2 linked regions of the Homo sapiens genome follow. The protein of the gene in region 2 interacts with the protein of the main gene of each other region in a pairwise test. Each region holds a gene or a part of one and is shown on either strand. Other genes may lie near its edges. The genes, in order: CD82 and VANGL1.

Evidence for each region.
Region 1: the proteins of VANGL1 (region 2) and CD82 interact in binary tests that used the Homo sapiens proteins (3 or more experiments, as listed by UniProt).

The regions. Positions count from the first base shown.
Region 1 is NC_000011.10:44,603,571-44,610,842, reverse strand, and holds part of CD82 (CD82 antigen), read right to left. Parts: intron 6,426-7,272; exon of another isoform or gene 6,385-6,425; coding exon of another isoform or gene 6,342-6,384; intron 6,336-6,341; exon of another isoform or gene 6,113-6,335; intron 5,826-6,112; exon of another isoform or gene 5,786-5,825; coding exon 5,661-5,785; exon of another isoform or gene 5,506-5,660; intron 5,489-5,505; coding exon 5,414-5,488; intron 1-5,413. UniProt on the Homo sapiens protein: Structural component of specialized membrane microdomains known as tetraspanin-enriched microdomains (TERMs), which act as platforms for receptor clustering and signaling.
Region 2 is NC_000001.11:115,644,941-115,652,212, reverse strand, and holds part of VANGL1 (vang-like protein 1), read right to left. Parts: intron 937-7,272; 5' UTR 800-936; coding exon 729-799; intron 1-728.

The sequences.
Region 1 (7,272 bases), on a different chromosome or scaffold from region 2:
GAAAAAAAAAAGAATTTCAATACAGCAACAGCAGATTATCCTGTGTGACTGCATAGGTTGAATGCCGAGGAAGCCAGCCCTGTCTTCCCTGTCTCCCTCCTCCCCATTTCTCAGAAGAGAAAAATGAGGCTCAGAGTTGGAGCAACTTCCCAAGATCACATAGATAGAAAGCAGCAGAGACATGACCAGACCTTGATCTGTGCAGCTCCAGGGACCCGGGATCTTAGCCTCGGCAAGCTGCCCAGGGCCTCCCCATGACCCTGCTGTCCTCTGCATGGCTCTACTCACGTCCCACCCAAATGCTGAGCTTTGACTTCTCTTTTAGTGTGAATTTTCACAGAGTCAGAGTTAGGAGAGACCTTTGCGTCCAGCAAATCATCCAAATGTAAGAGTCATGCTTTTTTAGGCTCTGCTTAAATGCTCCCTGCGATGGGGAAGTCAGTACCTCACACAATAGCATGTTGCGGAGTTGAGAGGCTCTGATACAATTTAAGTTCTGCTCAAATGACTTCTACCCACTTGTATTAGTTCACATCCTCCTCCTCTCTCAGCTACCCAAGTCCCAGCTAGGACCACAGGAACAAATCAAATCCCTCTCTCGAAGGACACATGTCATCCAGATACTTGAGACTAGACTACATCTCCAGGGTAACTTTTCGGGCTCCTGTGCCCGCCCCTTGGGGTGCTGTGCAGACCTCTTGCCATGCTCTTTAAGGTGTGAAATAGCCCCTTATAATAAGGTATAAATGCATGAATTGGACCCACATCTTCCTGTCCTCTCCAGGTTTCCCACATGAGATGTTGGCAAATGCTTTGCTAGAATACAGATACACCAGCTCAGAGGCTGCATCCCAGTACCCTGATAGGAAATGAGGGCGCTTCCTGCATCTTTTCTGCAAGTCCAGCTGCAATCCACGTAATTAGCTACCCCAGAATGCAGAGCCAGTGACCAGCGTGTGCTTCAGAGATTCTAGCCCAAGTGTCTTTCCATAATCCCTTTCCAGAGGGGTAGCCTGGACTCCTCCATTCCCTTCTCAACAGGGGAGAGAAAGGTCACCTCTCCCTGTCCCAGGCTCCAGCTGCTCTTCCTCCCTCTGCCCCATCGCAAGAGAACCCCAAGCCAGAGAATCAGGAAGTTCTAATTCAGCAAGCAGACAGTTCACAGAGAACCACACTGTCCCCTAGGAACCCGTCTCGCCACCTGTGTCTCACACATGAGGGTATGTGCGCACCAACAATTTGGGGCTTTCAGGGTGAGAGCAAGGAGGACAAGAAGGAAGTCACAGTTCCCCTGACCAACATCTCTGGGGAGTTGTCTGGCCAGCCACTGCCACTGTCACAGCCCCCACCTCTGGCTCCCAGCCAGGCCAAGTGAGCCCCTTCCCCTCCAATGTCTTCTGCTTGAGCGTGACAGCACTCAGAGCCTCAGGGGCCTCCCTGGCACAGGTATGGCCTGCCAAGTGCACCCAGCTCAGCACCCACACACCACAGGAAAGGGCAAACTGCATTCACTTCCTTCTCACTCCTCCCACCTCCACTCTCTAGAGAGAACAAGTCAGAATCCCTGACTGCCTGCACTGGGCATGGCCCAAGAGCTCGCCTGTGGATCAGAGAGTCTGGGTAACTTATCCGAAGCCACACAGCAATCAGCGGCAGAGCCCACACTAAAACACAGGGCCCCTGAATCCCAGGGCTGGGCTCTGCTCACCAGAGGCTGGATAAACAAGCAGATGAGGATCTTAGCACCGTGCCCAGATCCCCATTCCCGCAGCCCTTGCTCTGCTGACAACGAGGGCAGCAGGAACAGCTGCCACCTATTGAGCCCTTACCAGGCCTTCATGAAGTGAATAATGGCGGCAATAATAATAAACACTGGCAATGATGCCAGCAACATCAGCCTCCGGCTGAGTGCCGCACGACGCCCTTCCCGTTTGTTAGTGCTCTTCATCTCTGAAGTGCTGCAAGGCAGCCCCTGGGGGCTCCGGCTCGAGACAGGATCAGATTTTAGAAAGGGCCTGGAGGGACAGATCACACCCACTAGTGGGGGCTGGGGCAGCAGCCTGCAGTGAGTCTCATTTCTATTTCCCTAGGGACACCCGAATGGGGCAGGCAAAGGCCATACATAGCCTTGCTTCTGTTCAGGTTCAATTTTGCCACCAAATTAGTTGCAAATGCTACTTTTGGTTTTTAAAGTGTTTCTTTGGATTTCAGAATTGCAGAGAAGGGACAGTGGGCCTATATTGTTACTAGTTTGACAAATGTGGAAACTGAGGCACAGGGAGGCTGAGTAGCATGCCCAGAATGTCAGAGCAGTGGTTCCACAGTCAAGACCCTTGGACACCATTCTGCATTTTCACAGAAGTGTCACAGTCTGTGTTCACTTCAACCTGAGTGGTAGAGCAGGGAGAGGCAGATTTATTCTCAATTTATAGAAGCAGAACCCAAGGCTCCAGAGGTGACAGGCCATGCCAAGGTCCCCAACCTCCCCATCGCTGCCCTGAGAAGAGTGGCTGCGGGTGACAGAGGCAGGAAGGACAGAGGGCAGCCCTGGAGACCACAGCAGGGTCACTCCCACCCACCTGCACGGGAGCCCTATCTCCTTTCAAAAGGCCTTTCTTTTCCTTAGGTTCAAACAAGTCCCACCCCCACGCTGAGCCTTGTCTGCCAGAATAAACACATCAAGAGTATGTTTAGTCTTCCACTGAGATTTATGATGCGTTGCGAAAGAAAAAAATATATTGTTCATTCCAATTCGGGCGATACAGTGGCACCAGAACTTCTTCAGCAAAGCCAGAAAATTTCCCCCTGCCTTCCAGAAAAGATGGTGGTGGACTAAGGTGAGGCAGGCTGGGACTAGGGGGTGTGGACTCTGAAGGGGAAGACAGGGGCAGGGGGTGCAATGCACAGAGCTTGGCTGGGGTCGAGAAACCCAAATCTCCAAACAAGTCCTGTTCTGGGGCTGATAGGACACCTCTGAGGCTAAGCTCCTCATTATCAGCCAAGCAGAGTTACCCAGCCGGCGGGAGGGCAGCGTGGTGGATAGGGAGGCATGGGCCTTGGACTCCAAGGCATCAGGATGGAAATCCCCACTCTGATGCATCCAAGCTGTGTGTGTCAGTGGCTGAAAGTCACTTTGCTTTCCTGGGCCTCAGTTTCTTCAAATGGAAAATGTTTGTAAATTTGAACATGTATTGCAGCTCACTTTTCTAGCTCAGCTCCTGGCATGTGGTTGGTGCCAACCTGGTGGGCCATATTTATTACTGTGAGATGGTGAATCACATAGGGTGGACTGCCCAAGATCCCTGCAGAGGCGACCAGCTTCTGAGTCATAGAAACCGGCTCACTGGGGCCTGGTTCTAATCCACCCTGATTATATCACTAACTAGGTCCTAAAGAAGCTCAGTGCCATAGGACAGAAATGAAGACCTGACCCCATGACCATTTTTCTGGGAAAGGAATTTCCCTCCCTTAACTGCTGGCTTCCTGTCTCACAGCCAAACAAGCTGCTTTTCATCTACAAAATCCACTATTTTCCACTTTTGCCTTGACTGCCAGGAAGCTCAGTGCCCAAGTTAGCCCTTAGCTACCAAGAGTATCTTGTCTTGTGAAGTTCCATTAAGTTCTAAGTTCTATTAAATGTTATTTGTTGATGTTGATGTTGGTATAGTGTTTTCTCAGTTTCCTTCCAAGAGGGATCTCAGGCAACTTGACCTTCAAGTGGTGAAGGGCAGGAGCCTATCTGGCTGCCGGCTCTGCCACCCTCCCTGGTGGACAAGAACTGGTGGCACTGGAAGCAGGGACCCTAAGGGTCTGCTAGGCCACAGGCCATGTGCAGCAGGGTCTGGGGACGGGTGAACTCAGGACTCGGAGTCAGGGAGCCTAGGCTGTCCTTACTCCTTCATCTGCAGGACGGGGATTCTCCCACGACCTTGAGAGGGCCTAGTGAGGATCTGCGAGAGGAGGAGTGTAACGTGGTCAACACTGTACTTGGTATATGCTGTGCATGGACTCAACTGGAGGGATGGTGGGTGTTAGAGTCACTGTTATCTATGTTGTTATTGCTCTTCATCTCAGAGCATCTGCTTCTCCATCTGTCAACATAAAACCCTGCAGAGCCATTGTGAGGACAAGACGCTGTATGGAAAGTTTCTAGAAGATCCCACGTGCACACAGTAGGTGCTTCTTACGTGATAACTGTGACTCACAATTAACTGGCTCACCCAACAGCCATTCTTGGCTCCTTTCTCTCTTGTGCCTCTGTCTTTAGAGTCTGAAAGTTGGATACTCACATTCTCAGCCTCTTTTGCAACCAGGGGTGGCTTTGTAACCCAGTCTGGGGAAGTCTGTTGGAGGACTTTTTTTTTTTTTTTTTTTTGAGACAGGGTCTCACTCTGTTGCCCCAAGCTCTGTTTCATGGCTCCCTGTAGCCTCAACCTCCTGGCCTCAAGGATCCTCCTGCCTCAGCCTCCTGAGTAGCTGGGACCACAGGTGAACACCACCATGGCTAGCATTTTTAAAAATTTGTTTGTAGAAATGGGGTCTCACCATGTTGCCCAGGCTAGTCTCAGAGCAATCCTCCCACCTCTGCCTCCCTAAGTATTGGGATTACAGTCATGAGCCACTGCGCCTTTTCTGATAAAAGGGATGGCCATGTCTGGCACTGCCCACTTCCCCATCTTCAGGCCACAGCGGCACAGACATCGTGCCTGGTGCTGTGGCAGCCATCTTGGAACCACGAGGTAAGTGTCATAATGCAGGAAAGCCATCCCAGCGAGGATGCTCAACAGCCAGAACCAGGGCCTCTGAGCTTCCAAACCAGACTTCCGGTCAAGTCAACCACAGATGTCCTTCAACTTTAAGCCGCTGTAAGTCTGATTTTCTGTTTCTGAAAGCTGAACATCTCCCCTCGGACACAAGACTGATGTTTTTATTAACGGTCTCCTTCTAAACCTCATTTGTGGGTGAGTGGCATGGATTTAATAGTTGCTAAAGTATCTTAATAATAACAAGAATAACATTTATTGAGTACTTATGGTGCCATGCGCTATGTGTTTCACTCAGATAATCTCGAATAATCTTTGCAACCACTCTGAGAGTTCAGTTTTCTTATTGTTTCCATTTTACAGATGGTGGAACAGGCACATAGAGGCAAGCAGCTTGCCCAAGGCCACACAGCTAGAAAGCAGGGGGGTCAGGCTAAGATCCAGGCCCAGCGGGGACTGCCCACACCTGCCGCCTTCTCTTCTAACGCTCCCCCATTTGATCACAAGGAATAGTGTCCAGGAGGCCGTCCCTGACACCTACTGGATCTGTCTGTGACAACTGGGGGGGTTCCTTGTCCATCCCCCACACTCAGTCAATCACCCCCATGGTTGGTCCAGCCCAGTGAAGAGGGAGGGAGAGAGGGGCTTACCTTGCCCATGTTGAAGTAGAAGAGGGCCCCGGCCGTCACCTGGGCAATGAGGATCAGGAGCAGGAAAGCAAAGTACTGGGGACACAGAGCAGGCACAAAGTCAGCTGAGGGTCCCCGACCAGGTGCACCCAGCCTGCGTGCCCCGAGAGATGCTCTCCACCCGATGTTACGGCCAGCGCCGCGGTCAGGCTGCACTCGGCTGGATGAGAGGAAATGGGCAGGCAGCTGCGGAGGGATCCGTACTCACCAGCCCCAGCAGGCAGCGGACCTCGTTGACGGCGCCGATGCAGCCCAGGAAGCCCATGAGCATAGTGACTGCCCCCACGCCGATGAAGACATAGGCCCCCATCCTAAGCGAGCTGGAGGAGGTTTCTAGGGGGAAGAAGAAGTACAAAATCAGTGGGCACAGCAGGTATAAACACCTGGCCTAACCGTCCAGGTCTTCTTCCGGATCCCCTCTTTGGAGCCAGGGTGTTGGGGTCAGCTGCATTCCCCTGCTGGCTTCTCACTGCCCAACAGGGAACCAGGTCACCCCCATCCCCACTTGTGTCCCTCCCCCAGTAAAATTGCAATCCACACCCTCATCCAGCCTAAGCCCCTTCCCGGCTTTATTTTTTACTTCGTAAGGCTTCTCAGGATTGAATAGACTACATTTCACTGATTCTTCTTGCTCATTGTCTGCTCTCCCCCTCCACCAAGGACCTGAGGTGCATGAGGGCAGAAGCTTCACTTTATTCCTGGGGAACCCCCAGCTCGAACAGCGCCTCTCGCAGTGAGGTGCTGTGCACAGTGAATATCTGCGGAATTGACAGACAAGAGGCTGGCTGGTTCTCCAGGGGCCACTGACATTAAGATTCCAAGCTGATTTTTAACCCGCCTTCCTTCTTGTCCATATAATAACAAACACCAGCCTTTCTTGCCCACTCACTGTGCCTCATGGGCTTTCCACACGCCGTCTCCAACTCTGACATCACCCTGCCTGGCAGGCACTAGCATGGCCATTTCACAGAAGAAAAAAATGAGGCTCAGAAAGGCGAACAGGCAAGGGCCTGAGCTGGAATTTGAAAATATGCAAATCTCCAGTGCCACACTCTTTCCACTGATGCACGGGGCACATGTATTGCTACAGGTGTGCTGCATGTTCATTCGGCCAAGAAATGTTTACTGGGTGCCCACTTCATGCCAGGCACTGTGCCAGTTGCTGGGGATGCAGAAGAGTGACTAACAAGGTCTGACATTTGGGGGTGGGGAGTGGAGACAAAAAGTACACAATACAGGTTTTCTGGTTGTGTTGGGCGCCATGAAGATACCAAAGCTGGCTAACTGCAGAGAACTGCTGGGCTGGGAGAGGGTCAGAATGGGTCGACGAAGGCCAGCCTGAGCCAGTGACATTTGAGCCAAGACATGAATGAAGAAGTCAGCCAAGCAAAGATCTGTAAGAAAAGCATTCCAGGCAGGGAACACAGCAGGTGCAAAGGCCTGAGGAAGGAGGAGCTTGGTTATTTGAAGATTGGAAAGAAGGTGAGAGAACGGACCAGTGAGAGCAAGAAAGAAGCCCGGGAGGAAATGATGCTTAGGAGGTACAGGAATGGGCCTGATGGCTAAGACCCTCTTTAGAGCTACCTGTGGACAGGCCCATTCCGGGAGGTAGAGGTCAGGAGTCCTGCAGGGGCACTTGGCCAACATTTCCTAAGACACCCAACCCATCACACAGGGTAAAGCTCATGTCATCTCTAACTCACCAGCATGGGTACACTGTACCCCCAGGGCATGGGACGCACCTGGAGGGCGAGGGTGCTGGCGTCTCCAGAAGGCTGGAGAGTAGTGTGGATCAGAGGAGCCTCTTAGGGATGCAGATG
Region 2 (7,272 bases):
TTGTTCACCTGAAGATTAGTCAAAAAGAATAAGGTGCCAGGACAATCCTACCAGTTCACTAAATAAGCCTCATGACAAAGGCATAATGGACAATGAGTCAACAACTTCAGGTGAAAAGCAACAAGCAATGAACACTTTTTAAATCTTCCATTTACATTCTTCATAAAGCTTTCAGGAGAGCCGATACCTATAAGAAATACCTAGAAACCGAGGCGGGCGGATCACAAGGTCAGATCGAGACCATCCTGGCCAACAAGGTGAAACCCCGTCTCTACTAAAAATACAAAAATTAGCCAGGCGTGGTGGTGGGCGCCTGTAGTCTCAGCTACTCGGGAGGCTGAGGCAGGAGAGTGGCGTGAACCCACAAGGCGGAGCTTGCAGTGAGCCGAGATGGCACCACTGCATTCCAGCCTGGGTGACAGAACGAGACTCCGTCTCAAAAAAAAAAAAAGAAATACCTAGAAATGAAAAACATTTCCACTGCAGGAAGAAACTTTAATTTAAAACCAATTGTGAGAAACTAAAGTCATCAACTCTAATGGTGGCTATAAAATGTAAACTGGTGACGTAGTTACTCCCAAGAATGTTAAATGCTCTTAAAGCTCAGCTTCTCATGCACCAACCGACCAAATGTCCAGCGCTGAGTCACTGAAAAGTGAGTGTAGAGAACCCCACCAACCTGTAGGTTTCCCCAAAAGGAAAAGTGTAATAATGAACAACTTACATACCCTTGTCTGTGAGATTTTTTCGAATGACTTGAATAGTAAGAATATCCAGAATAAGTGGATTCGGTATCCATAGCAATGGAGGGCTTGCGCTTGAGGAAGGAGCAGGTACTGTTTCTCCTTAGAGGTAGAAAATTTCACCTACCAGACTCCTAAAACCTCAAGGAGTCTGGAAATTAGAAGAGGAGCCACTCTTCAACAGGAACAAATTCTGGGAAAGAGGGGGAAAAAAAAAGACATTAATCTTCAGAGCCAACCTTAATGGGGCTGAAAGATAAATGACAAAGCCACACCTCCTCTCTGGGGTCTCTATCATGGAACAAGCGAGTGAGGGTGAAGCAACTGAACTGTAAATGCTCCACCCATGCAGCAACCAGTTTTCCCAGGTGTCTGGGAGGGAGACAGGATAGGCGCTGAGCAAGCTGAACCCCTACCACAGCAGCAGGAAAATGGGAGGCACTTGTCCACGTCCTCAGGATGACCTGACCCCTGCTCACTGGCTTTAGGAGGTGGCTTTCCACATCTGCGACCCTCCACACAATGCCCAGCCCCCCACTGCCAGTTTGCTGGTTAAAAAAACAATACCCAGCGAAGTTGCTTTTAAGGGATTTGGTCATAATTTCCAAAAGTCAATTAAAAAAAAAAAAGATCTTCAATCTTTTTGATCTAGGATCCGAATTTCTGGGAATTTATCTGAGGGAACTGATTTCTTTTTTAAAGAAAAATTATTGTGGTCTCATTGTCTATAAATAATAAAATGCTAGAAACAATCTGAATGCCCCCAGAATACAGGAATAGGTAAGGAAAACATGGTTCATCCACCAGAAAAGTATCACATATGTTTAAAATGATCATTATAAAGAATAGAAACTCTTATAATGATGAATTTTAAAAGCAGGATACAGTATTGTTGATACACAGTGAACCAACATTACAGTTACAATTGTATAAAATTGCTTATGTAAGGACAAAGATTTTTAAAAGGAGACACAGAAAATGAAAGCAGGCAATTTATTATTTGCAGGCTCCTGGGTCTTCTCCCACATTTTCATTAGATATTGCTTTGCAATAAAAATAAATTGGAAACATTTCCAAGTACATTCCTGAGCTCCCACATGCTAAAATTTTTACTTCTAGAAAACCGAGATCCACAAGTTCTGTCTCTTTCTGCACCCCTCACCCCAGAGCTAGTCTCAGCTCAACAGGGTTCCTTCTTCCAGCCGCTGGAAGCTGAAACTGCAAACACAGCCAGTGAGATAAGTGTGAAGAAAAAACAAAGGAGCTGTAAATGCCATACCCTAACCCTCCTGGGAGGAGGCCAAGTTTCCCTGACCCCAGCAACAACACATAAGTCTGGAGGGAATCAGGTCAGCACAAATTGCCATACACCACCAATACAGCCCCCACAGCCTCTAATCCCAGTTAGGGTGTATTTACCCTTACCATTCATTCTTCCTGGGAGTCAGGTACGATCACTTCCAAGGTCTGCCACCCAGGGCCAGCCTCCTTTGTCCCTGATGCCCTGACTTACCATTTCACTTCTCCTCTGCCATCAGGAGCCCAAGGCTAGCCCTGGGGAAACCTGAGTTCTAGTCTGAGCCCAGCCACTGTTTAGTACAACCTGGGATAAGCCACTTGCTTTCTTATGCCTCAGTTTCCTCATCTGTTAAACAGGGTAAACCAACCAGCCACCGACCTCACAGGTAGATCTGAAAATATAAGCAGACACAGTTTCCAAAGGTGGGTTCCAATCTCGGGTTTTACTCACTTATTAGCTATCAGGCCCCAGTCAAAATTAGTAAACCTCTTTGAACATGTAACTGTAAAATGCAAATATCAGGGTTGCCGTGAAGACCAAATGAGCTAACAACTATGAAGGCACCCAGCGCGAGCTCCAGATGTGCTAGGTAAACGAAAGTCACTGTCTATCAGCACTCTCTTTGCGGGTTCCGAAATGCTTGTTCCTCTGTCTTTTTAATGAGAGAAATGCTTGGAAAGAAGCAGAGCAGAGTCTCTGTGCCGGCCTTCCTGCCACAAGGCTCACCTGCAGTCAGACAGAACGGAGCACACATCTCAGTCCGCTGCCTACTAACTAGCTGTACACCTGGGCAAAGCAGTTTCTCCTTGGAGCCTCAGAGACTTCCCAATCCATAAAAAGGAAGCAAGGCAGCCTATTATGGTGGGGGTTTGTGGGGGGAGGTAGCTGTAAAGATTAAATGTGAAAACACAGCAGGCCTTTTTTAAATGCTAAGTTTTGCTCCTGGACTTACCCTACTTTCCTAGAAGACTTCAAGGGCTGAGTCATCTTTTTTTCTGCCTACTGTCTCCACCATTTTCACTAGCAATTTCAATCAGCTTTCAACACCTCAGTCTCACTTCCTTTCTGCCCTGGGCTTTGCTGTTTTCTCACCTGCTTCATAACAGGCAGACGTCAACATTAGGATGTGCTTCGAAGATCTCCAGCCCTGAGTGAACTGAGATCCTCCCTGAAAGCCCCTCACCCAGCCTCTGCTGATCTGCAGATTCAAATGTCCAGTTCCCTGGCCCAGAACACCGATTTCCCACTCTCTTCTAGATTCATAATTAACCCTTCACAACTCCTACACTCTGCCTTGCAACCCATAACTCTGGATTCCCCATTCCATCCCAACTTCCAGCTACTTTTTGCTAAATGCTGCTGGAGTGTCTCAGAGGCAGGTGGCCCAGGCCCCGCAGATGTGGGCAGATCCAGCTTGGTGCTTCCTAGCTGTGACATCAGGGGGCAAATGTTTGCCTCTCTGAGCTTATCCAACCCTGCCCCATAAAAATGAGGTCATTTAATACTCTCTCTTCCCAGGGTTCTTGTGAGGATTAAATGAAACTGCAAAGGTAAAGTCTCTGGCACATGGTAACCCAAGTTTTATTCCCTTCCCCCTCTGCCAGAGGACTTCATTCCTTGTCCTCATTGAAAACTTGTGGCCATTCATTAAGACAACTCCAGGCTTGTCCCTCAAAGGAAACCATGGGTCCCAACTGCCCTCCAGGGAAAGGCTTTATCTAACTCTACCAACCACCCTAGTCTGGTTTCCCTCCCATGGTTCCTTCCTGTACTTACCAAAGGAGTGGTCTATACATGCTGTCACTCCCTCCTTCTCCACTTTCAGTCCAAATCTCCATCCACAACACTCCACTGAAACAACTCAAAGTTGGCCAAGGATTGCTATGAGCCAAGTAACATCCTTGTCCTCCTCCCCCAGTGCTTTTTATTTCATTTATTAGTCCATCCACCTCCATATTAAGTGGCACCTACAAGACCATGCTAGGCAATGCTAGGGCACAGCAATGACAAAGGCATGCTGCCTGCCCTAGCAGAGTTTCTCTGCAGCTGGCTAGCCTCCAATTTGATGCCGCTTATGTTACTACTTCTCCTCTAACACTCCCTCTCCTCTCCCCTCATCACGTTATCCCTTGACATTCAAAACTCTTCTCAGTCTTCTCCATCCACAGATTTCCTATGGCAGAAGCTCCTTGAACACAGCAACTACGTCTTACCTCCACCCAGGATATTTTGAACATAGCAGGTACCCAACAAATACTTACTGAAAGACTAAATCCCAAGTGCACATTTCCTACTGAGATTCCTCTTGCTCCCCTTGGGAATACCATCATCCCTCTCATAGGTGCTCTCCAGTATCCTGTCCTGTTCTTCCCAATTCCTCAGCTAAAGCAATACCCTCATCCTAAGGATCTAACCCTGTGCCACCTTCAACACCCTCTCTGATCCTCCCTTCACTCTACTGATTCACAGCCACCCACTTCCTCCAGGCTCCACCTACACAGGGCTAGACCACTACAAAGCCTCCAGGTGTCCTCACCAGCCTATACACAGCTCAGGCCCCTTCTAAGTCATACCGTTTCTAATAGTTACCAACTCTTATCCTATCCAAGATCTGAGTGAGGACTAAGAGGATGCAATAAGAGGCAAACTAATAAAATCCGAAGTGAACTTATTTTAAAAGAGTCTGAGCCAAGGTAAGAACTTCAACAGACTTAATGGAAAAGGATATCCTGAAGCTTACCACTGCAATGATATATCTATGAGATAGTTCCCTTGCATACACAAGAAATTAACCAAACTCATGATAAGGTCAGAAGGAATCCCTTATCAGAAAAGACAATAAAGCAATGAAAAGGAATCAGGTTCCCAGGGTAATACACTGATAGGCTGTCACAGCAGCATGAATAGGACAGTCATATAAAGGTGGGAATATGGCTCCTAGAACCTGGAACTGTCTATCATACTGACCCCTGACATGACTCATATTGTGTTTGGCCCAGGCTGGGCAGCAGCCAGAGTGACCTTTTAAATTACAATGCAGACGTCACTTCCCTGTTTAAAACCTTTCCGTGGTGTCCCACTGCACTTTAAATAAAATACAAAAATCTTTCATTTGGTATGCAATGTCCTGCCCGACGCTCTAGCTCCCTCCTCCTTCTCTAGCCCCAGCTCCTTTAAGGTAGAGTCTTAGGGCTTTGGCAGAGCCCAGTATATCTGTTGGTACTCACCCTTTACATGCCCTGTTTTGCCAAATTCCTACTCATCACTCCTTAATTTAAATACTGCTCCTTTCAAGAGGCCTTTCCTGATCCTTCAATCTCAGTCAGGCTCTTCTCTAGTACCCTGTACTCTTCCTTTCTATCCAACTTCCAGTGATACATTTGTTTGTGTGATCACTTATTGTCTAGTTTCTTCACAGGCTGTAAGCTCCATGAGGGCAGAGGCACTTTCATGACTGCCTGTCTTTCCAGCTCCTAGGACATTATGGGTACCCTATAAATGTCTGCTGAATGAAGGGTTTTGTGGCAGATCTTAGGACATGAGGCCATAGATTCATTGTGGAAGAAACTTTAGAAATTATCTATTTTAAATCCTTAGTTTTAGAGGTGGCAAAAAAAAAGATGCAGATATTAGATAGAGGCGTGATACCAGAACTATCAAAAAAAAAAAAAAAAAAGCTATACTACTGGCTCGCATGGCAGTCCCACTCAGGGGCAGAGTTCGTATGCCAGACACACTGAGTAAAAATCAGCAGCAGCCTCTTTCAGCCACTGCCCAAGAGCATCTTGCCTCACCGGTCACCCACCCCTTAAGAGTGTATTGCTTGGCACTGCTTGGGTAGGGGCTGGAGGCAAATATTAGGACACGGCCAGGCTCATTGAACCACATTGCATGCAGGCAAGGTCAACAATGGGAGATAGGTGCACAGAGTGCTTCTAAGTGGCAGTGTCCTAAATTCTGGACTTCCTAGGCAAAAATGTCAGAAAGAACCTCCTTCACCACCCTTTATCAAAAGCAAAATGAAGATAATCAGCCTCAAACAGAATTCTCTCCTAAAGTCATGTTCACTCATATAAAAATCCTACTACTTAATATGAAAACACAGTGTTTAGCAAATCGTATGAAGGAAATAATATGTTATGATAATGACAGTGGTAAACATAAGCTAACCTTCGCAAAAAGGAAATTATAAAAACATCAACAGCTCTGCCTAGAGCTATTAAGTAATTAAGGGAGCTCTGGTTTGGAAAGTTACTTTGTAAGGGTTACAGAGACACGCACTGAATTTAAAGAGAGATTTTGCTTCCTATGCAGTAAGTAGATCTATTTCCAAGGAAAAGTGGTGTCTGGTACAACCATGCTTATATATGCTGTGTATATTATTCTGAATATTTGATTTTTACATAGAATTCTGCAGAGATTATGCTATTAATTATTATTTATATTATGTCTTGAAGCTAACATTCTTCTTAGGGGTACCCATTCTTAATTAAATGGCACTCAAGGGGAAAGTGACAATTGAAATAATTTTGTTTAGAGTCAACTATTCTTCTAGAGAGTAGCAATGAGCCCAAATTGTGGGTGAAGAGCATTCAAATCCTGGCTCTAGTACTTAGCTGTGTGACCTCAGAACAAGTTACTTAACTGCTCTCTGCCTCAGTTTCCCTAACTGTAACAACAGATTTTATTTTACTTATATTATAGATCTGTGGTAGGTATTAAATGAGATAATTCATAAAAATTATTAGAACAGTGCCTAGCACGTGGTAGGCACTCACAGCTGTCAACTACTACTAGTATTCACTAGAGTAAAATTCCTTCAGTTAGGAAGAACTGAAGGGGTTGTATGGCATATAACTTCTGTATCATTTTCACTGAACTTATACACATTTTTCTGGTCTCTGCTACCACCTTTAACTGCTACTATTAGCTATAGCTGAGTAACAAGTGATTTCTATTCTGTTTCTTACAGGCCTCTATTTACCATCCCCAGGTTGGAAGCAAATGTCAGAGAGACCAGAGGAAACCGTGTGTGTTTTAGTGGGTTTATTTGGAGGGGCATGGGCTGGAAAGGAGCGGGCAGAGATGCAGGGCAAATCTATAAAACATTTTGAACTTGTGGCCTATAAACCACCAAACATCATGCAGGTCACTGATGTGAGGATCTGCTGGGCTTATGGCATTTGTGACAAACCCAATGATTCTTTTATTACAACAGCTTATAAATGA